Regions from separate parts of the Homo sapiens genome. Here region 1 is reported to be linked to region 2. Evidence: microRNA targets listed by miRTarBase, many of them from high-throughput screens and not tested one by one. Region 2 holds a microRNA gene; the other region holds the end of a gene's coding sequence.
Evidence for each region. The annotated mature microRNA hsa-miR-4750-3p reads CCUGACCCACCCCCUCCCGCAG and lies in region 2 at 6,846-6,867, opposite strand. An mRNA with a match to its seed (bases 2 to 7 or 8) in the 3' UTR can be bound and repressed. Matches are read on the target gene's strand: a 7mer-m8 pairs with bases 2 to 8, a 7mer-A1 pairs with bases 2 to 7 and ends in A, and an 8mer does both.

Region 1: miRTarBase lists FAM83G as a target of hsa-miR-4750-3p. Seed matches in the 3' UTR shown: 7mer-m8 at 1,388-1,394 and 7mer-m8 at 1,995-2,001.

What each region holds. Positions count from the first base shown.
Region 1 is chr17:18,965,394-18,972,393 of GRCh38, reverse strand. It overlaps FAM83G (family with sequence similarity 83 member G), which reads left to right. Exons shown (of 6, transcript NM_001039999.3): 6 at 646-3,605. The coding sequence ends at 1,035. It overlaps SLC5A10 (solute carrier family 5 member 10), which reads right to left. Exons shown (of 15, transcript NM_001042450.4): 6 at 3,237-3,342; 7 at 2,972-3,052; 8 at 1,176-1,381. Among named protein-coding and RNA genes, the nearest start is that of SLC5A10, 17 kb to the right of the region's middle. RefSeq lists enhancers at 689-1,630, 3,517-4,460.
Region 2 is chr19:49,879,343-49,895,075 of GRCh38, reverse strand. It overlaps MIR4750 (microRNA 4750), which reads right to left and starts at 6,901; the gene lies at 6,846-6,901. TBC1D17 (TBC1 domain family member 17) reads right to left here. Exons shown (of 17, transcript NM_024682.3): 4 at 14,674-14,797; 5 at 13,601-13,808; 6 at 12,924-13,035; 7 at 12,676-12,834; 8 at 12,184-12,312; 9 at 12,000-12,103; 10 at 11,331-11,425; 11 at 10,707-10,823; 12 at 10,517-10,617; 13 at 10,318-10,417; 14 at 7,503-7,600; 15 at 7,242-7,358; 16 at 6,759-6,845; 17 at 6,326-6,652. The coding sequence ends at 6,452. IL4I1 (interleukin 4 induced 1) reads left to right here. Exons shown (of 8, transcript NM_152899.2): 4 at 1-8; 5 at 607-808; 6 at 3,603-3,671; 7 at 3,969-4,105; 8 at 4,476-5,422. The coding sequence ends at 5,406. It overlaps LOC124904743 (a long non-coding RNA gene), which reads left to right and starts at 7,600. Exons shown (of 4, transcript XR_007067293.1): 1 at 7,600-7,882; 2 at 8,313-8,630; 3 at 10,190-11,507; 4 at 12,902-12,986. RefSeq lists enhancers at 2,994-3,660, 3,661-4,329, 4,330-4,997 and silencers at 4,365-4,554, 4,785-4,954.

The DNA of each region.
Region 1 (7,000 bases), not on the chromosome of region 2:
AGGGTAGGCCACGTGGGAAAGGCTTGTGTGAGCGCTGTGATCGTTCATTCCACAGAGGCTGGCTGTGGCTGCCTTGTCCTATGGTGGACCCCTGGGGCTGGGTCCAGAGGCATGGACAATTGTGGGGCCTGTGCCCACTGCTTCACAGGCCTTTTCCCACCCCCATGCTCCCTGGAGCTGCCCACGGCCTTTGGGACAAGCAAAGCAAGGGCACCATCTGCTTCTGCCCAGAGACAGGAAGCAGCTCATCTGAGGTCACCTGGAGGGCTGGTGACAGGGTCTTGAGGGCAGGGCCAGAGTCACCCCCTGCACTCAACAGAAACTCCTGCATTGCCTCCAACAACCCCATTCAGCCCATTTCCAACCACGTCCCAGGCCTGTGTCGGAATAGAGGAGGCTGCGGGGGTGAGCTGGGAGGAAGCTGCCTTGCTACACCCACAAAGGGCAGGATTATTCCCATATTACAGACAGGGGAACTGAGGCATCGAGTGACTAAACCAACTGGTCTAGGCCCACTCCCTGGTGAATGGCAGAGCCAGGAGGCGAACCCGGGCCTGCCGGCTCCTGTGTGCCTGAGCAGGGTCCTGTGCTGGGGCGGGGTTGGCCCTTCTTGCTCAGCCTCACTCTCTGCTCTCTCTCTCCCAGGGCCAGCAGTTTCATCATCACAGGGTCCCTGCCTCAGGGACTAGGGATAAAGACGGCTTCCCAGGACCCCCTAGGTACCGCTCTGCTGCTGACAGCGTCCAGAGCTCTACCAGAAACGCTGGCCCAGCCATGGCTGGCCCCCACCACTGGCAGGCCAAGGGAGGTCAGGTACCCCGCCTGCTTCCGGATCCCGGCAGCCCAAGACTGGCCCAAAATGCCCGCCCCATGACCGATGGCAGGGCCACCGAGGAGCATCCGAGTCCCTTCGGAATCCCATACTCCAAACTGTCTCAGTCGAAGCACCTAAAGGCCAGGACGGGCGGTAGCCAGTGGGCCTCATCGGATTCTAAACGGAGGGCTCAAGCCCCCCGGGACCGCAAAGACCCCTAGCAGCATGTCCCAGCCTGGAGCCACACCTTCTGAGGCCCCAGCCCAGACTCATGACGCGGAGGGCAGACAGGCCGCCTGGGCCTACCAGAGCCCACTGGGACGGCAGGAAGGTGGGATGGGCGGGAGACGTTGGCACTCACCTGGTCGGTGCACCAGTACCAGGTGGCCATGATGGTCAGGCCAAAGGTCATCCCGGTCCACGGCAGGTCCCCTGTGTGGGGGTCTCGAAACATGTGCATGGCGTCTGTACGTGGCAGGTGGCAGGTGGTGTTGGCAATGGTCCTGGAGGGAATGGCCTGGGCGTAGGCTGCCTCCAGCTGCCCGTAACCACCGATCTGGTCAAAAGCTGGAGGGGTCAGGGTGGAACAGGGACAGTTTGGTGGTTGCGGGGCCCTGACTCCCTGGGCTCCCCCCTGCCTTCATCTCACAAGAAACTTCCTGATGCATCAAACTTGAGTTTTTTCCACCTCATCTTTCCCAGTGTTTGGAAAGGTGTGAGGGTAGAGGGTTGTTTTTTTTTTTAAGGTGTATTTGAATGACTATTTTATTCGTATTTAAAATAATACTATTAAGTAAGCATTTTGCACATGGGCACCCCAGTGTCCCGCTGGCCCAGCAGGAGTCACTGTTGGCCTCTGGACACTCATCGGCCTTGGGCAAGTGGTTCTCAGCCAGGTTTCCGATTGTCGATTCAAGGAAGCAAAAGTAATTTTTCTTGACATTTGAGGACCTTCCTGAGGCTTCTAAAGTGTTCATCCTGATCACCTGAAGGGTGTGATTTTAGCAGAGCTGAGAGTGGCTGGTGGTGATGTGGCCCCACCCCCTGAGGCACAGAGAAGAGGGAGACAGGTCCAGAGAGGGATGGGGCCTCCACCAAGACCATATAGACCATCTGGCGGGCTCAAGCCGGGGCTTTTTCCTCTCCAGTCCAAAACACCTCACTGTTCCTGTCTACCTCGGGGTCAGGGCCCGGCATGGCCAAGCCCTGGCCCATCTGTGTCTGTGTCACTCCCCTCCCTTCCAGACTGGGCCTGGCTGCTGGGATCCCTCTCATGCGGTGGGTCCCAGGGACACTAGAGCCCCTGGTCTGAGAGGGAGAAGCCTGGATGTAGGAAAACCCGTTTCCACCCCAGGCCCTACTCCCTAGCCTTTTCCAAGTGGGACATGGAAGAGGCAGCCTGCTGCCTGGATGCTGGTCTCCCCAGCATCACTGTTCCCATGGAGCTCAGGTCAGGCTCTGTATTCAGACCGAGGGTTTGTGTGAGGCTCAGAGCAAATGAACAAGTGCCATTCAAGGGTTAGAAACTGCTCAGCCACAGGGTCCCAGTGTCTGAGTCTGGAAGAGTCTTTAGAGATTTGTTCACTCTCTGAGGGATCCTCCTGGCTCTGCTTACATACTTCCAGGGACGGTGAGCTCACGCTCTCTCCGGGCAGCCCTGTGAGTTTCCTATCTGTTCCAGACTAGTATCGCCAATCTCTCCCAGCTCTCTTCTTTCCTCCCTGGCCTTTGTCCTGCAGGAGGTAGCATCACCTCTTGGCATTTTGTACATGCTTTTAAACAATTGGAGGAGCTGCCCAGGCAGTTTTATGGCCTCCTGGTTGTGTGCCTTCACACCCGCCTACAGCCCCACCTCACCATCAAGCGCTGAGCCAATGCGGGTGTGGCTGGCCCTGAGTTCCTGAGTCAGCTCCTTGCCAGGGCCAGAGCTGGTAACAGCGGGGCAGCAGGGTGGGTAGCCTCTACCAGCCAGGGCAGTCCCTGAGGGGCCAGCAGGGGGGCTGACTGCCTAGTGGCTCAACCTCCTGAACCCACCCACTCCCAGCGATGCTACCCAGAACCCCAACGGCATGAATCCTGCACAGTGCCGGGCAGTGCCAGACTCCAAAGGGCTCGCTGTGGGGACAGCCCCGCCATGGCCACAGACTCTGTCCTCACCTTTGATTGTCAGGATGACAGCCCCCACCACCATGATGAGCGTCTGCAGGGCGTCCGTGTAGATTACAGCAGCCAGGCCCCCTGCCAGTGGAAGCAAGGTTGCTGGAGGGGGCCCTGGCCCCAGGGAGGAGGGACACGGGGAGGAACTTCTGGGGCTCCTGCTGGGGCCACTTCCTGGGCTGCTCCCTCGGGCCTGTAGGGGGAGGTGGCCTTCTGACCCCTTTACACGTCCCCTGGGTGGACCTCCCTGCTGCAGGCACCATACCTGCGATGGTGTACAGGGCTGTGATGCCGAGCGTGAGGATGGTGGAGAGGTAGAAGTTCCAGCCCAGGCAGATGTGCACAAACAGAGCCCCCGCGTACAGGTCCAGCTGCGGAGGGAGAGAGCCTTGTGTGGGACTGTTATTCCCAGGGCTCCAGCAAGCCACTCCCTGGGTGACCTCGGGCAAGGCCCTCTCTGGGCCTCGGTGGCCTGTGGATAAGGAGGGGAGACCCCCACTCGCCTGCCTGCCTGCATCACGGGGCCATTGTGAGGTTGGGGGAAGACCTGGCCGTGGAGCTACAAGCTTGTGCGGATGTCAGGGGACATTACTGTTGCTAATAAAGTCCAAAGTGGCCAATGCCTTTCCCAAAAGCAGTGTTGTTATTGAATCTGGCCCCTTCCCGAGGGGATAAAAGGCAGAGCCCTGTCCCCTCGGTTCCCAGGGGCACCTTGATGAGTTTGTGAGGAGTCTGTGAAGACCAGTAGGCCTCAGGAAAAGTGTGTGCTGGGCGGACCAGTAGGCCTCAGGAAAAGTGTGTGCTGGGCGGACCAGGAAACAGAGGGGCAGCCTTGCTTCCTGCCCCCACCCCCCAGTGGGTTTGGAACTGAAGCCAATAGTGGCTCAGAGGCTGGGTCTCAGGCTGAAGCTGGTCTCCACACTGACTGGACACAGCCCCTGCCCTCCCAGAACCTGTGGCTGCTCCTCCTAAAGGCAGGAGCGCTAGCCTGGAGGCCAACCTCTGCCTGGCATGGGCCTCAAAGACCAGAATCCCACCCTCCACCTGGCAGTAGGGGCCCAGTGAGAGGAAGGGCAGGACCCTGTTCTCTGGGACATGGGCTAGTAACAGGCTTCACCTTGCCCCACCCCTGAGTTCCTAAACCTACCATTCTGCTTTGACTCAGGAGATGCGAGATGACCCAACACACAGCCTCAGGGGCCAGGAGCTTCCTGAGAAGGCTGGGGCCCTGTGCTTCCTAGTGTGGGGACACATCTGCACGAGGCCCAGGAAGTGCAGGCCCCAGGCCCCTTTGAGCTCCCCCAGGCAGGGATCCCTGCCTCCTGGGGTCTGACACAGGGCCCAGGCAGGATGGGATCTGGCTCCAAAGCCTGTGCTTCCTGTACCTCTCCCTCCAGGCGCCTCTCTCAACCTGTCTTAGAGAGACCAGCCAGTTTGGAAACTAGCCAGGGGCTTTCAGGAGAACCCCGGCTCTGGTCCTTATCTTTGGCTGTGTGTGTGTGTGTATAGGAAGGGCAGGTAGTTCAGGGGAAGGTGTGGTGGGGGGTGGGGGCGGGATCTGCCTCCAGCCCAAGTAGAGAAGCGCAGAGGTGCTGAATATCAGAGCAGGATGGACTCTTCAAGTCCTGCCCCATCAGACTAGAGGATAAACTGAGGCCCCAGGAAGGGAAAGGACTTCCCCAAAGTCAGCCCCTGGTAGGTATCAGAGATTGGAGTTACCAGGAGAGGGAAGGCCGAGAGGGAGCAGGAGGCTTCTAGAAGGCCCACCACAGGCAGCCTGCAAGCTTCTGTCCTACAGTCACTGCTCCAGACTCCTGCTGGACCCTGGCTGTCTCTGGACAGAACCTGGGTCTGTGTGCCCGGTCTTTGGCTCTGGCCACGCCAGACACATGGCCCTTCATCCCATGCCCAGCACTTAGCTGCCTCTGAGTCTTTGCTCACCGGCTCACCAGATTCCCTCTGCCCTGGAACATCCCAGCCTCTGCTTCTCATGTTTCAAAACACAGCCGTGCCAGCCCCTCTGCTCCTCGAGTACATTGTTCATTCGCCCTCCCTCCTGCCTCCCTCCTTCCTGCCCTTCCTTCCACGGTGGCAGGCCCCAAAGACTGAATAGAAGTCCCGCAGGTGCAGGAACGGCAGGAGCAAGGGTGTGGGGTGGGCCTTTCACTGCTGTCTCCCCTATAGACTGGACACTACATGGCATCCAGTGAACGTTTGCTGCTGTTGCTAGAGGCCCAGTAGGTGTGCGGTTGCCTGCAACTCCCGAGCAGCCCCCGGGTGAGGAATTCAGACATCACTTAGCCCTATCCGACCCTTCCTGCAGCCCGAGCACTCCTCTGTGGGCCGGGGCAGCTTCAGCCTGACAGATGCCAAGAGCCACACAGCCCTGGCTCTGTGCCCCTGGTCTGCCATGTCCCAGCCACATGGCTTTGAGCAGGCCACTTCATCCCCTGAACCTCAGTGCCCCTGATCTGTGCCATGGGGAAGTGGGTGTGGAGCACACAAAGCCAGCCACCCAGCCCCTCCACCCTGCCGGCACCCTGCAGCCCCTCTACCCCCTCACCCTGGCACGGGATGCTCCGTGGGACTGTCTGAGATAGCCAGCTCTCCTCTGTGCCTCCCTCCCCAGTGACCCAGGAGCAACCGCAGAGTGTTGTTTTTTTTTTTTTTTTTGAGACGGAGTCTTGCTCTGTCACCCAGGCTGGAGTGCAGTGGTGCGATCTCGGCTCACTGCAACTTCCACCTCCCGGGTTCAAGTGATTCTCCTGCCTCAGCCTCCTGAGTAGCTGGGATTACAGGTGTGTGCCATCAAGCCCGGCTAATTTTGTACATGGTTTCACCATGTTGGCCAGGCTGGTCTCAAACTCCTGACCTCAGGTGATCCACCCACCTCGGCCTCCCAAAGTGTTGGGATTACAGGCGTGAGCCACCGCACCCGGCCCAGAGTCTATTCCAACTCCTAGAAGGCACAGATGGGGAGGTCAAGGCCCAAATTGCAGAGGAACTTGCCCATGGAGGCAAAACTCTGGGAACAAAATCAACAAGACTGCACCAGGGAACAGCATCCCCGAGGAAGGGCCACTCCCAGGGCACAGGCTGAACCAGGACCTCACTCCAGGCTGCCACCCATGGGGCCGGAGCAACTGGTCCACCCCCAGCTCAGCAGCCTGATCCAGGCTGCTGTCCAGAGGTGCCTGCCTGCTCCTGTGATGTGGCCCCACATTCACCCTGCACAAACTGTCCTTTCCACTACCCTGCTCCTTCCTCCCCATGCAGGACCCCCACGATTCCTCCCTTCATCTTGTACCCAGAAACCCTGCCAGTGCTTCACGGCCCTGGTTGTCCTCCAGGACTCCCTGCTGACTTGCCACTTTTGACAGGTGACAAATGTGCGTGTGTGCCACACGGCGCCCTGATGTCTTTCAGGTCTCCCCCAGTGCTGCTCATAGCATCCTACCAGGTGGGTGTGGTAATCCACTCCACTCCACAGTGGGGGGCACCTGGGCATGGAGAAGTGAAATGACTTTGTCAAAGTCCCACCGTCCTAAGAGGTGGGCCCCAAGGACGTGCCCTTCCTGCTGGCTGACCCTGGGGCCTGTGAGGTCCTGGGGAGGAAACTCATGGCAGGGGACCTCCCAGAGAGCACACACTGTTGGCAGCAAGCCACTCCTCTCCTGGCACCATGTAGCCACCACTGGGGGCTTGCAAGGGCGGGAGCCCAGTACACAGGGAGGGAGCAAGGCTGAGAGAGGACGTGTGGGCCCTGTGGTGCAGCGTGGGACTGATCTGGCGGGCTCTGCACAGCTTAGACCCCCAAGCTCCCCACGTATATGAAGGAGCCTCACTCCATCTCCCAGCCGATGGAAACCATTCACTCCAGGGCGTGTCTGAGGCTGAAGGAGGCTGGGAACCGGCCCTGGTACTCTGGCTGCCCGGCCTGGGCCCTTGCCCTGCCCGCTCTCAGCCACCTTCCCACATGGAACTTATATCTCCCATCCTTCGTGGGACAGCAGAGAAGCTGGGTGGGCT
Region 2 (15,733 bases):
TCTCACAGGTGACCTAGCAACCCACCCACCTGTGTGCCTAGACTCAACTAGCCCCCCAGCTCCATGCCCACACCAGAGTGGGCCCGAACTTCCACTCTGACTCCCAAACCCAGCCTCCAACCCCATCCTTCGCCTAATCCTCACCTCAGTCTTGCCTCCAGCGCCAGCCCTGGGCCTCTGGCAACACTCGGGCCACCTGGTCCAACCAGACCTCCAGCTGGCCCTGCCTGGTGCAAAAGCCAGCTCCTGTGCTGGCCCCTCCAGGCCTGCAGCTCCACCATCCCCACACCCTCAGGCACCCCAGCCCCAGGCCCCTTCTTCATCTCAAACCCCCGTCCAACCCAAACTCTGTCCCCCTTCCCAATTCTAATCTGGGCTCTATCCCACTCTTAACCCAATCCTAATCCTGGTACTGCCCTGAGGCCTCCAGCCTTGTCCCCATTTCATTCCCATCCCCCAGCATTGATTACCCCAAATCTAGCCCCACCCCCAGCCTCATGCTGGTCCCCAGCTACTCTCCCCTCCCACCCCTCTTCTCCAAGTCCCACTAGGGACCAGGCCACCCCCACTGGAGCCCGGCCCTCACTCACCCACTCCCCTGATCAGGATCCTCCACAAGCTCTGCCAGGGCCTGGGGCTCAACCTGACCAAGTTCACCCAGTACGACAAGAACACGTGGACGGAGGTGCACGAAGTGAAGCTGCGCAACTATGTGGTGGAGAAGGTGCCCGAGAAGCTGGGCTACGCCTTGCGTCCCCAGGAAAAGGGCCACTCGCCCGAAGACATCTACCAGATGGCTCTCAACCAGGTGGGTACCGCCTGCACCCTCCTCCCGCCCTGACTTCTCTGTCCTCCTCCTAAGCTCGCCCCGGCCCGGCTTTTCTTCTCTCTGGCATCCCTTCAGTCCCCTCCATGGGGTGGGGCGCCTGTTGGTGGAGATGGAAATTCTACCAAGGGGATGTGTGCCATGAGGTCTAACCACTGACCTACTCACTGAAATCCGAGAATGAGAATGGGCCAGCCCAGGGGCTTCTACACATATGGGTCATCTCTCAACTCCCTTCTTTTTTTTTTTTTTTTTTTTTTTTTTGAGATGGAGTCTTACTCTGTCACCCAGGCTGGAGTGCAATGGCGCCATTTCAGCTCACTGCAACCTCCGCCTCCCAGGTTCAAGCAATTCTCTGCCTCAGCCTCCCGAGTAGCTGGGATTACAGGCGCCCGCCACCACGCCCAGCTAATTTTTGTATTTTTAATAGAGACGGGGTTTCACCATCTTGGCCAGGCTGATCTTGAACTCCTGACCTCGTGATCCACCTGCCTCAGCCTCCCAAAGTGCTGGGATTACAGGCGTGAGCCACTGCCCCCGGCCCCAACTCCCTTCTTTAGCTTCCCCGTAAACACTGCTGACCCCAAAGCTGCATCAGCTTTTGGCCTCTTCCCCTTTCACCCACACACTGTCCTGGATAACCTCCCCAGTCTCCACCTCTGGCTTAAACATAGATCCATGGGCTGATGGAGACATCTGCCTCCCGAGACCCTGATCTGTGTCCCTCCCCAGGACACTGGGCTCAGAAGCTTCCCCTAAACCTGTTCCTCCTCCCGGTGCCCCCATCTCACGATGGCCCCACCATCCCGCAGTCACGGGCAGACCCCTAGGAGCCATCCTCCTCCTGACCTCCTCCTCGCCCACCTCCCCCACCATCAGTGCCCACCCCTGCCGCCTGACGCTTGTGCCCTGCTCCCCTCTGCCTGCCCCAGCTCAGGCCTCCTCCTCTGCCCTGGACCCTCCCCCAGCCTCCTCTCAAGCTGCCCAGGCTCTAGTCTCCCCAGCCTGGTACCAGAAACGTCTTCCCACACACCCAGAGTGATGCTGCTCACAGCCCCCAGTGGCTCCCCGCTGCCTCCAGGACAAAGTCTGATCTTTTCAGGCTCAGCTTTGAGCCCTGACTGGCCTTCCCTTCTGCACCCCTCCAGCCTCATGCTCTTTTCTCCTCTAAGAAATTTTTGTCCTCATGGTGGTCCACATGCCCCCAGCTCTGTGTTCCTCACACCCACTATACCTGTGTATCACCCTCCCTTTCCAGAATGCCTTTCCCTTCCCCACACAGGAACTCCTGCTCAGCCCTCAAGAACTAGCTCCAATGTCCCCTCCTCCAGGAAGCCTTCCCTGATACCTTTAGGGAGGAACTGGCCACACCCAACATCCCCTCCCCACCCAGGTCAGAGCCCACTTGCCCATCTCCCCTTCTAGACCAGGATGGGGGCCATGTCCAGGTCATTTCTATGCCTTGACACTGACTGGTTTGGGAGTCTGAGAGATGCGAGATGCATGAGTGAGTGAAGGGGCACTGCCTTCCCTCTGAGGTCCTGGCCAGAAGGGGGAAGCCAGGTGGACCAAGAAGAAGGCTGAAATTAGATGGGGGCAGCAAGGCTTCTGGGAGGGGGTGAGATTCGAACAAAGTGCTGAAGAACACGCACTCATGTGCCACGCAAAGACAGGCAGGGAAACAATAGGTGCCAGATGTGTAGGTGGGAGAGCCCTGAGGGCAGGTGGTCTGGGCACTGTACACTGTTCACAGAACCAGAGCTGCCATAAAAGACATGGACTGAGGTAAGTGGGGATCTTGGTTCTGCTGAGATTCAGGGCAAAGAGAGTGACCATGAGGCCTTCCCCAGAGAGTCAGAAGGCGGGTACCTGGCACGCAGTGGCTCACGCCTGTAATCCCAGCACTTTGGGAGGCCGAGGCAGGCAGATCACTTGAGGTCAGGAGTTCGAGACCAGCCTGACCAACATGATGAAACCCTGTCTCTACTAAAAATGCAAAAATGAGCCAGGTGTGGTGGCAGGCGCCTGTAATCCCAGCTACTTGGGAGGGTGAGGTGGGAGAATCACTTGAACCTGGGAGGCAGAGGTTTCAGTGAGCTGAGATGGCGCCACTGCACTCCAGCCTGGGCAACAGAGCGACACTCCATCTCAAAAAAAAAAAAAAAAAAAAAAGACATTGAGGGGCTAGCAGGGGCCTTGAACATGAGGCTGAGGGGCAAGAATTCTGTGGCTCCAGGCACTGGGGAGCTACAGGAGGGCTGTGGGCAGGGGACGGACGGTAGATAAACTTCTCAGCCATCATGCCCTGTCAGCACTGACCAGTGGCACAGGGGACCAGCTTCTGTCCGTGGCCACAGTGATTCAGGCAACAAATAATCACTGAGCCCCCGGGAGGACACAGCACGCCTGGGACCCTCTCCCAGTCTCCTCTCCAGCTGCCCACATCCCTGCCTCCATGGAGCTCACAGTCTGGCTGGCTGGCTGAAAAATAGGCAAAATAACACGCAACCGGGATGAGCTGTGACCAGCCGGGCCAGCCGAATGAGGGGGGATGGGCGGCGTTAACAGTTCGGTAATATCGGAGGAGCAGTGGCATCTGAGTTGCCGTGGAGGGCAAGGCGGAGGGCATGGTGTGGGCAAAAGCCCAGGGGCTTGAGAGTGGTGAATGGCCAGCCGTGGGCAGAACCACGAGGAGAAGCCGAGTGTGGGCTCCAGGCCCGGCCTCCACCCTGGCTGCCCGGGCAGCTCAGCACCATGTCTGCTTCTTCCACAACAGGCCCTCAAAGACCTCAAGGCACTGGGCTGCAGAAAGGCGATGAAGAAGTTTGAAAGGCACACGCTCTTGGTAAGTGGGGATCTTGGTTCTGCTGAGATGCAGGGCAAAGAGAGTGACCATGAGGCCTTCCCCAGAGAGTCAGAAGGCGGGTACCTGGCACCCTAGTCCTGCCACCGCCTTCCTGCCTGACCCGGGGGCTGGACACGCCCCCTGTCTGGACCTCCGTTTCCCTCATCTGTCAGAGAGTGGGGACAGGATCCTACGGTCCAAGGACATGTCATGGGACCAGGAGGCCCAGCTGCGGAGGGGCTCTCTCAGGGGTGCAGCCTGCCTGGGCCCTAACCTCGGCCTGTGCCCAACCTGCAGGAATATCTTCTCGGGGAGGGGAACCTGAGCCGGCCGGCCGTGCAGCTTCTGGGAGACGTGATGTCCGAGGATGGCTTCTTCTATCTCAGCTTCGCCGAGGCCCTCCGGGCCCACAGCTGCCTCAGCGACAGACTCCAGTAAGGGGCGGGGCTGGCGGGCAGGGGGGGGGGGCGGGGGGCAATCAGGGAAAGTAGCAGGGAGTGGGAGGAGCCTCTGGGTCTGGGGGCGGGGCTGTTGTGAAGGGCGTGGCCTAATTGATGGTCGCGGGGCTAAGGGTTCCCAGATAAAGGACACGGCCTAGGGGAGAAGTGGTGGGGTCCCTGGTGACACAATCCACTACTCCTGCGGCCTTTGGGATGTCAGGGACGGGCGGGGTCGGGAGAGGTGGATGACGGGGGAGCGGGCCGGTGCCCATAAGGGCCAGCTGCCGGGGTGGGTGGGGCAAGGCAGAGGGGCAGGGCCGCAGAGCCCAGGTCACGCCCCCACCCCGCCCCGCCCCGCCTGCAGGTACAGCCGCATCGTGGGTGGCTGGGACCTGCTGCCGCGCGCGCTGCTGAGCTCGCTGTCCGGGCTTGTGCTGTTGAACGCGCCCGTGGTGGCGATGACCCAGGGACCGCACGATGTGCACGTGCAGATCGAGACCTCTCCCCCGGCGCGGAATCTGAAGGTGCTGAAGGCCGACGTGGTGCTGCTGACGGCGAGCGGACCGGCGGTGAAGCGCATCACCTTCTCGCCGCCGCTGCCCCGCCACATGCAGGAGGCGCTGCGGAGGCTGCACTACGTGCCGGCCACCAAGGTGTTCCTAAGCTTCCGCAGGCCCTTCTGGCGCGAGGAGCACATTGAAGGCGGCCACTCAAACACCGATCGCCCGTCGCGCATGATTTTCTACCCGCCGCCGCGCGAGGGCGCGCTGCTGCTGGCCTCGTACACGTGGTCGGACGCGGCGGCAGCGTTCGCCGGCTTGAGCCGGGAAGAGGCGTTGCGCTTGGCGCTCGACGACGTGGCGGCATTGCACGGGCCTGTCGTGCGCCAGCTCTGGGACGGCACCGGCGTCGTCAAGCGTTGGGCGGAGGACCAGCACAGCCAGGGTGGCTTTGTGGTACAGCCGCCGGCGCTCTGGCAAACCGAAAAGGATGACTGGACGGTCCCTTATGGCCGCATCTACTTTGCCGGCGAGCACACCGCCTACCCGCACGGCTGGGTGGAGACGGCGGTCAAGTCGGCGCTGCGCGCCGCCATCAAGATCAACAGCCGGAAGGGGCCTGCATCGGACACGGCCAGCCCCGAGGGGCACGCATCTGACATGGAGGGGCAGGGGCATGTGCATGGGGTGGCCAGCAGCCCCTCGCATGACCTGGCAAAGGAAGAAGGCAGCCACCCTCCAGTCCAAGGCCAGTTATCTCTCCAAAACACGACCCACACGAGGACCTCGCATTAAAGTATTTTCGGAAAAAGCCGTGTGGTCCAGCCTCCCCCGTGGCTCAGTTACTTCCCCAGTTTGCCTGCATCGGAACCACTAGCCCTGCAGTTAGCAGGCGCCACGCCCATCCTGGAGCCCCCCCAAAAATCTGCCCCTCACTTCTTCCTGGACAGTGGGGCTCCAGAGGAGGGTGGGGGGTGGTGCGCACAGAGGGAACCGGAAGGACGCCCTGCACCACCGGGAAATGGCAATCACAGCGACCACCTCTGTCACGAGGCTGAAGTCCAGATGGGCCCTAATGCAAGTAACAGAAAGCCCAGCTGACAGTGGCTGAACAGGAGGTGATTTTTCTCACAAGCAGCAGCTGGGAGGGCAGGCTCCCCAGAGTGCATCTCTGCAGGCCCTTCCACCTTGGTTATGTCCGGGAAGTGTTCCCACACAGCTACCAGGTCGCCGCCACAGCCCAGAGCACCCTATCCTCTTCCAAAAACCCCAAATCAGGCCGGGCGCGGTGGCTCACGCCTGTAATACCAGCACTTTGGGAGGCCAAGGCAGGCAGATCACCTGAGGTCGGGAGTTCAAGACCAGCCTGGGCAACATGGTGGAACCCCATCTCTACCAAAATTACAAAAATCAGCCGGGTGTGGTGGCACACGCCTGTAGTCCCAGCTACTCAGGAGGCTGAGGCAGGGTAATTGCTTGAACCCGGGAGGCGGAGGCTGCAGTTAGCCGAGATCTGCCACTGCACTCCAGCCTGGGCGACAGAGCAAGACTCCATCTCATAAAACAAACAAACAAAAAAACAAATCAGGCAACTCAGGAAGCCCTGCCTCCACAAACCCCAATCATTCACCCTAGGCTCTGCCCAGCCACCATCCCCTCCTCAACCAGGTCAGAGCCCACTTGGCAGCCTTCCCCCCACCAACAAGAAGCCAACTGCACATGAGAAGTGTCAGTTTAATGAAGCCAGCTTATCAGCAGGGCGGCGGAGCACACCTGCCCCCTCGCAGGTGTGCCTGGCTCGGGCTAAAGTGCCTGTGCAGAACGAGGCTGCCTGGCGGGGTTAGGAGTCGGCGCCCTCGTCCTCCTCCTCGGGCAGGATCTCCAGGCTGCTGTCGGGCTGCGGGGCTGTGTCCGTGGAGGGCGGCGGGGTGGGCGGGGCCCGGGTGGGCGACAGAGGCAGCGGGGAGGCGGTGGGCGAGGGGCTGTGGGGCTCTGCGGGCGGGGCCAGCCCCAGGATCTCCTGCACGTTGTGGGGCAGCTCCTGGAGGCACGGGATGAGAGAAGCGAAAAGCGGAAGGTGAAGGTGAGAAGGGGGCGGGGGTCGGTCGGGGTTCGGGCGGGGCGCTGCGGGGCGGACGGGGACTCACGGGGCAGGCGGTTAGCTGGCGGTGCAGGGCCTCGGCGCGGGTCAGCACGTCCTCCACGCTCAGCTTCATAGTCAGCTCGTTGATGTGCTGCGGGAGGGGGTGGGTCAGGCGCCAGTCGGCACTCAACCACCTCCGCCCGAGCGCCCACTCTGTGCTTCGTGCTGGGAAACAATGAAGACACACCGGGCTGGCCCTCTGGGGGCTCAGAAGTGCGCTGGGCGAGACATGCTTCTCAGGCCTCCGGGAGCATTCTGAGCACGTACTCGGGGAGGGAAGGTCCCCACCCACCTGCCCGGAGGACCTTGCTGGGAGCAGGCATGGCATGGGGCAGAAGGGAAACCTACGCGGCCCCACCCCCACTGCGCTCCCAACTAACCAGGCTTTCAATAATCCCACACTAAACACCTGCTCCCCGGAGGTACTGCGGCCCTGGGCAGCGCCCAGCTCAGGGGGGACAGGGCGGGGGCGGGGCCGGAGCCTCACCTTGAGGATCTCATTGGAGCCGAAGCCGGACAGCATGAGGGTGTCCCTCTCCATGTCCAGGATGGCGCAGGCCACCAGCAGGTGCAGATTGGGGCCAGGGAGCCCTGTCCACAGCACCTGAGGGTGCGGGACAGAGGGAGGGAGGGAGGTCATAGCCCAGCCTGGGCCTGAGGTCCCACCAGGGTCTGTCCCTCTCCGCCCAACCTCCCAGGGCAGGTGAGCCCACCCCTTCAGGCCTCTCGCCCAAACTGGCTGGCCCACCTCCCACAGCCGAAGGACATCCGGGAAGGGGAATTCCCTCTTGAACCAGATGAGCAGCCACCGGAAACAGAAGCAGAGAGAGCCGGAGTCCTGGGAATCTGGGGGATGACATGGAGCCCACTCAGCCTTGCCCAGCGCTGGGACTGAGAGTTTGAGAAGTCATCCTGACTGGAAGACCTTCCCCAAGTCTAGGCAAGTGACTTATGCCTGGCTGGGGAACCTCGGAGGTGAGGCAGGAGCAGCCCTGAACGCGGGCCCTGCCCCTCCTTCCTCCCACTCTCCAGAGGAAGTGTGCTATTATACTTCCACATCTGCCATGGACATGGAAGGGAGGCAGGACGCCCAGCACGCCCGACGAAACAGACCTCTGCCCGCTGCTGGTGAGCGCTAAGGGAACTGACACTCCTAGATACGCTGTAGCAAAAATTTAAGCTGAAGGCCGGGTGCGATGGCGCACGCCTGTAACCCCAGCACTTTGGGAGGGTGAGGCGGGTGGATCACCTGAGGTCAGGAGTTCGAGACCAGCCAGGCCAACATGGTAAAACCCCATCTCTACTAAAAATACAGCCTGGCCAACGTGGTGAAACCCCATCTCTACTAAAAATACAAAAATTAGCTGGGATGGTGCCACACCCCTGTAATTCCAGCTCCTTGGGAGGCTGAGGCAGGAGAATCGCTTGAACCCGGGAGGTGGAGGTTGTAGTGAGCCGAGATCACACCACTGCACTCCAGCCTGGGTAACAGAGCGAGACTCCATCTCAAAAAGAAAAAAAAAATTAAGCTGGTGTTGAACCTTTTTTTCCCCCCAAGTTAACTCAAATGAAAGTGAGAGTCTGAGCATTCTAACCTTTGAGGAAAGTAACAACGGAGGACAAACTCTCCAAAGCTGTGTGAAAACAAGCACTGTCCTGAACAAAATTCCACTTCTTGGAAGTGAACCTAAAGAAGAAATTACCCAGACTATGCACCGTGATGAAAAACTGCAAAGGACCCGAATCTCCAGCAGGTCAAGTTACATCAAATCTACCACATCTTGCAGGTGGACACAATGCCGCGCAGTCAAGAAAAGTGATGTTTCAGAAGACTTTGAATGACCCAGAGGCAGCCTCTGTCCTTGTGCCCTAGGAGGTGATGCTTTTCTATGGCTTAGTTTCCTCATCAGTAAGGTGAGGACAGAGTATCTCAGCTCCCTCCCCCGGGGGTCCTAAAGCATCGAGGAAATGTTCATGAATAAGTTTAACTTATTATCATCACCATCTGCACTCAAGAAAAACAATGATATCAAACAGCAACTTTAACTTTCTTTTTTCTTTTTTTTTGAGACAAAGTCTCGCTCTGTCGCCCAGGCTGGAATGCAGTGGTGCAACCTTGGCTCAAGTGATTCTCCTGTCTCAGCCTCCTGAGTAGCTGGGATTACAGGTGCTCGCCACCACCCCCGGCTAATTTTTGTATTTTTAGTAGAGACGGGGTTTCACCATGTTGGCCAGGCTGGTCTCGAACTCCTGACCTCAGGTGATCTGCCTATCTTGGCCTCCCAAAGTGCTGGATTACAGGCGTGAGCCACCACACCCGACCTTTTTTTTTTTTTTTTTTTTTTTTGAGGCAAGGTCTCACTCTGTTGCCCAGGCTGGAGTGCAATGGCACAATCTCTGCTCACTGCTACCTCCCCCACTCCAGTTCGAGTGATTCTTGTGCCTCAGCCGATCCCAACAGCTGGGATTACAGGTGGGCGCCACCACGGCTGGCTAATTTTTTTGTATTTTTAGTAGAAACAGAGTTTTGCTATGTTGCCCAGCCTGGTCTGGAACTCCTGGCCTCAAGTGATCCACCTGCCTGGCCTCCCAAAGTGCTGGGATTACAGGCGTGATCCCAGGATGACATTGCGCCCAGGCTAATTTTTAAATCTTTTTGTAGTCTCCCAATTTTTTTTGGTCTCCCAGTGTTGCCCAGGCTGGTCTCAAACTCCTTGGCTCACGTGATCCTCCCACCTTGGCCTCCCAAAGCACTGGGATTACAACCATGAACCACCACACCCAGCCTTACTTTTTCTTCTTCATCTTAATTTCCTGCAGTTTTTACATTGACCAAGTAATAAAGAATATATTTTTTTTTTTTTTTTTTTTTGAGATGGAGTTTCTTTCGCTCTTGTTGCCCAGGCTGAAGTGCCATGGTGTGATCTTGGCTCACTGCAGCCTCCACCTCCCAGGTTCAAGCGATTCTCCTGCCTCAGCCTCCTGAGTAGCTGGGATCACAGGCGTGTGCCACCAGGCCCAGCTAATTTTGTATTTTTAGTAGAGACAGTTTCTCCATGTTGGTCAGGCTGGTCTTGAACTCCTGACCTCAAGTGATCCGCCCGCCTTGGCCTCCCAAAGTGCTGGGATTACAGGTGTGAGCCACTGTGCCTGGTCGAAGAATAAAAATGTTAAAGCTGGGATGCAGCACCCCCAGCCCCAGGGCCCAGAGAACCAGTCTCTGATTCCTGGTTCAAGGTGAGCCACAGCCAGGTGGGGATAAGAAGTGGCAGGAATGCCTAGGTCCTTATTTCTGAAAAATACCCTGCAGGTTAAGCCAAAGGCAAAGCCCAAACAGGATCTAGGTGAGCATGAGGACGGGGTGAGTCAGCATTCCTGCGTGTCTGCATTTGGTGAAGTTTTGCTTCAAACAGCAATTCTGCCTCTACATTCTAGGTTGTGTGGGGATGTTTCTCTTGTTTGGATCAGGACCCAATGTCCAGGATGCCACTGTGGCTGCTACCAGAGAATCTGGCAAGGTCTATGGCCCCATTGTCTCCTGCCCACCCTCCCGAGAGACATACCCAGGAAGTCGCAGAGCAGGGGGTCCAGCACCCTCAGGAGCAGCAGCAGTCGCCCGAGTTGCCGCTTCATGGTCTCCTGGCTCTCTTCAAAGTTCCCTTGCTGTGGGACGGAAGGAGGGGGGAAAGAGCAGACCCCGTGAGGTACCAGGACACCTGATCGCTCGATAGGCCTGTGTCCCACCCCTGACCCAAGCCTCACCACGAGCTCCATGAAGCCACAGAAACACCAGAAAGCATCCACCTCGTTCTGAATGACGTAGAGGATCGGGGAGAGAAGATCACTCATGCCCTGGACGTAGCCTGGGGGGACATGGGGTCAGGCTGCAGCCAAGCCCGCAGCGCTCCCCTGGACAGCCCCGGCCACGCCCGTCCCCAGGCCTGGCACCCACCGAGGTCGAAGTGATACATGCAGTAGGTGAGGAGGATATCGTTCAGCAGGCCCAGCCCCGGGTTCTCGGGACCCTCGTAGAACTTGTTGGTCCTGTCAGTGCGGCTCACATCCCTTTCTGCGGGGACCGGGCACAGGGTGCAAAGGTGAGAAAGGTAGGGGGGCCCATCCCTGCTGGCCACCAGTGCCAGCCCCCACTGCTCCTCCTGCTGGCAGCCCCCAGCCTCGGGGTTTGCTCTGGGGGAGAAGCAGAGCTGGTTCTAGAAACTATCACTGATGCTCCTGCTGTGAGGCGCCAGGCCTCCCACTCACCAGCTGGCTATATCCTCCCACAGTAGGGGAAACTGAGGCCCAGGGAGGCAAAATCACTTGCCAAGATCACCAGGCATTGACAGAACTGAGACTGGGCCTGAAGGGAGCTGGGCTCCCCTTCTTTCCCATCCTGTCCCTGGCCTTGCTCCCCCAGGGCCATTCCCCAACAGCCCATGCAGCTTTCCCCCAAGATGCCCTCTCACTGGTCTTGGGGAGGCAGGGGGCTCCCTCTATCTCCCACTCGCACTTATGCCTGAGGCCCTCCTGTGGTTCCCTGCTCCCATCCACCCTAAGTGCCACCCCTGACACTGACCGATGAGGCTGCGGTATCCATGCAGAAGTGAGTTTCTCCGCTCCTGCTCAGGGCTCACAGATTTCCACTGCAGCTTCATGCGGAAATACTCATCCCTGAGTGACAGAGGGAAACAAGATGTGAGGCCGCCACTGTCTGCAACACCCAGAGACCTCCAAGCCTGGCGCCACCTCCCAGGTCAGCCCTGCAGAGCCCCTCCCTGACCACACAGACCCAAGCAGGTCACCTCGTCATTCTTGCCACTATCCCTTACACTTCACCTTCCTGGCATCTCTCACTACATAGCCTTGTGGCCTTTTGATGAAAATTTGTCACCCCCCACTGGACAGGGCACCAGGGACAGGGAATCGTCCAGCACTGCTGCATCCTCAGTGCCTGGCAGGTATATAACCTACACCAGGAATGAGGAGAGACGGGCCCTCCTAGGTTATAAAACATGCTGCAAAACTGTGATCATTAAAACAGTATGGCACAGGAATGAAAACTGCAATGGAGACAGACCATACAGGGGTGAGGATGGGTCTGGCTTGATCATTGCCGTATTCCACAGGCGCAGGATGGTGCCCAGATACAGCAGGTTCACAACCAGCGTCCACAGAACTTGCCCATTGGTGCCCTAGGAGGTACCAGGTGTCATGCCTGGCAGGGCAGGGCCTCCTGAGAACTCACGTTTTCTTGCGTATGTGGGCCTTGTGCTCCTCAGCTGTGCCTTCCCAGCTGAGGTACCCTAGGAGGAACTTCCAGGCCTCGCGCCGCAGGCTGGGGCTCAGACCCTGGGGGTGCAGGAGGGCAGGCAGCTCAGTGGGGCCTTGTTCTGGCCCTGCCCCATTCTTCCACCTGTCCTGGCACTCACCCCCGAGAAGATCCGGTTCTTCAGCTCAGGGACCTGCTGCAGGCGACCTTCAGGGCCCACGTGGCGTGCCCACTCCTCCTCTGTAACTGGAGGGCCCCGCTCCACGGTTGGCCGAGGCCCCAGCTCCACCTGCAGGCAAAGAGCAAATGAGCCTGGGGCTCGGCGGGGTGGTGGGGGGACCCAACCCAGCCTCAGTCCACAAGCTCAGAGAGCTTATTAGCTTGACGGATGACTAACATTCAGGGGCAGGCAGCAGCCTCTTCCGGGGCTCAGCAGCCAAGTCATCCCCCAGTTAGGAGGGGTCCCCCAATAAGGGTGAGCAGGTGCTCACAGTGTCTGGCAGAGCCATGAGCGCTTTCCTCATGCACCCCCTGAGGGTGTCCCATTACCATCCCCGTTTTACCAAAGAGGAAACTGAGGCCCAGGGAAATGAAATCATGCGCCCAGGGAGACACGGCCAGAAATAACAGGGAGGGTCCACTCACTACTCACACAGGAAATGACCTCGAATCCAGGCTCGGGCTCATCGTCGGGTGGCGGGGGAAGGTCGGAGGCGGCTCCCTCAGGCTGTGGCTGCAGGGCACCCCGGAAGAAGTTGGTCACTCGGGAGAAGCTGCTGAAGGTGGTGGAGTAGGGATCCTGGAGGAAGCGCTGGGGACGAGGCCAAAGGGAGGTCACGGCCCGCCCCTTCTCGTCCCTCCCTGCCCACACCCGCCAGGCCTCCTGCTGGGGACACTCACTGACACCACATTGGAGCTGTCCTGGTCAAAGAGCTGCAGGTGGTGGAAGGAGTTGGAGAGAGCAGAGGAGTCGTGGGGGAAGACAAGGTAGAGGCGGGAGTCCTGCGGGGAGCTGGGAGGCGGGAGGTGACGCACAGGTGATGCACAGGTAGGGGCCCAGTGTCCCAGGCTGTCTGTGCTCGGCCGACATCGGTTCCAGCTGCAGCGTCCCAACCACCCCTGGGCAACCCCTCATTTCAGGGAATGCTGTTAAAGGAGGCCCACAGCTGGATCCCAGGGGTGGGCACATGACTCGGGGCTGGCCAATGAGGGCCTTTCACCTTCCGGTCCAGTGTGACTGACTCAGGGACGAGCCAATGAGAAGCAGCTCTGGGATCTTGTTGGAACGTGGGGAAAGAGGTGCCTTCTATCCAGCCGGGTTGTTAAGCCACGGATACTGGGGCCCCAGAGAATAACGAACTCAGAGGGAAAAAGGATAACTGTTTCTAACATTTTGGGACCTGGGTCCTGCCTGAAATCAATACTCCTTTTTGACTTTTTAGTTATATGTGCTGGTCAACTCTTTGCCTGCCTTTAAATCAGTGTGAGTTGTGTTTCTTTCACAGCCCCGAGGGGTCACGCTGCAGCCATGGTGGGACTGGGCCCGGTTTAAGGCCCAGCACTGGGAGAGAGCTCACCTGGCCAACAGCAGGTAGCGGCTGAGGACGCGGAGCAGGGCGCGGGTGCCCCCGCGGTGGAAGTGCAGTGCGGGCAGGGAACCTCCAGCCTGGGTCACCAGAACCAGGTAGGCCCAGCTGAGGCCTGGCTTGGAGCGGCGGATGGACTTTAGCTCCCCCAGACTCACTGAGAAGGCCCAGGAGCCCTGGGGGCAGCTGGGCTCTGCACCTAGGGAGACGGCACTGTGTTGGGGGAAGCGCGTGGGAAGCCAGAGTCAGCCTTATCAACCACAACCCAGGATGTTCCTTCGGCACAGGCATCTCCTGAGGGCCCCGCCACAAGCCACCCCTCTGCCCCTGGCCTCACATTCCTTGGAAGCACAAATGAGTAAGATGGGAAGGGGGCCCAGTGGACATGTACCTTTCCAGAACCTTCCTAGGCACCCCTCGACCTGCAGGGTAAGGGCCCTATTCCTCAACCTGGCACTCGAGGCCCCTCGGGTCTGTCCTTCGCCCCTGCCTATCTTACCTCCAACCTTTCTTCACTCAAAATCCCACACTTGAGCTACAATGAAAGGCCAGCGGCTCCCTAAACACACGGGGGCCGCCTGCCTCTGGCTTGCACGGGCTGCTCTCTCTGCCAGAAGAGAAAACTCCCAAGAGTCCCTCAGTGCCAAGCTCCAGCATCACCTCTTCCTGGAAGGAATCTCCATTCCCCAGAGGGGTCACGTGCCTTCTCTGGATGTCCCCTGCACCCTGTGTGACCCCAGGATGGTGCAAATCACCCTAACTGGCTGCATCTGTCACCCCACCAGCCTCGAACCTCAGGGGCAGGCCTGGTGTGGGAGCACCCACAGCCAATCCGGGAGCCCAGTAGGATGAGCAAGGCTGCAGTCTCAGAGACACTGGCCATGTTGACCTGGGCTGGGACAGTCCTGTCTTCCCATTCACTTCCATGCTCCTGGGACTGGAAGGTGGTGACTGGTGGCCTTCTTGATTGTGGGCAGCAAAGCCCTTGGGACCGTGACCACTGAGGGCAAGATGTGTCCTACCTGGCCCACACGTGCTTCTCAAGGGCCGCCACCTCAGCCTACCTCTCGTGGGCTCTGAGTGGCAGAGCTGTGGCCGCACAGTGCTGATGACAGCCCAGTCAGGTTCATAGCCGGGGTCAAAGGTTGGTTCCTCCTCAGAAGCACATGAGTCACCCCCACTGGAGTCCTTAGGAGAGGAAAGGAGCAGACAGTAAGGGGCCATGGATTCAGATCTTAGCCTCGAGGCTACCCTGGAAGATAGCCCCATTGAATAAAGAGGGAAACTGAGGCACAAAGAAGGTACAGCAGGCCGGGTGCGGTGGCTCACGCCTGTAATCCCAGCACTTTGGGAGGCTGAGGCGGGCGGATCACCTGAGGTCGGGAGTTCGAGACCAGCCTGACCAATATGGAGAAACCTCGTTTCTACTAAAAAAATACAAAAAAATTAGCCAGGCATGGTGGCGCATGCCTGTAATCCCAGCTACTCGGGAGGGTGAGAAAGGAAAATCGCTTGAACCTGGGAGGCGGAGGTTGCAGTGAGCTGAGATGGCGCCATTGCACTCCAGCCTGGGCAACAAGAGCAAATTCTGTCTCATTAAAAAAAAAAAAAAAAAAAGAAAAAAGAAAGTACAGCACTTGCTCAGGGTCACCCAATGCAGCCAGAGAGCGAGCCAGGACTTGACCCCATGTCTCCCACTGCATGGGGAGGTCCATGCTACACAGCAGGTGGCTCTGCAGTCAGGCTGCGGAGTGCTCAATGGACACTGTTGTACTCACCAGGTAAATACAAACCAAAACCACAATAAGATACCACTTTGCACTCTTTTGAGACAGTGAGACTGTCAAAAAAAAAAAAAAAAAACAATAACAACAACAAAAAAAACACACTACATTTCCCAGGTTTCTTTGCAGCTGGAATCCAGGACACAGGACAAATTCTACCAACCAGATGCAGGCCAACCTGGAAAGCGGAAGTGATGTAACGCAACTTCCTGGTGCCTTGGCTGTGTTTGGCTGTGGAGCAAGGTGGAGAGTCATCTTCATCTTCATCTTCATCCTCCTGCCCTGGGGCAGCGCAGGTGGTCAGCTCAGCCTTCCAGTGTCTCGTCACTAGCTCTGTGGG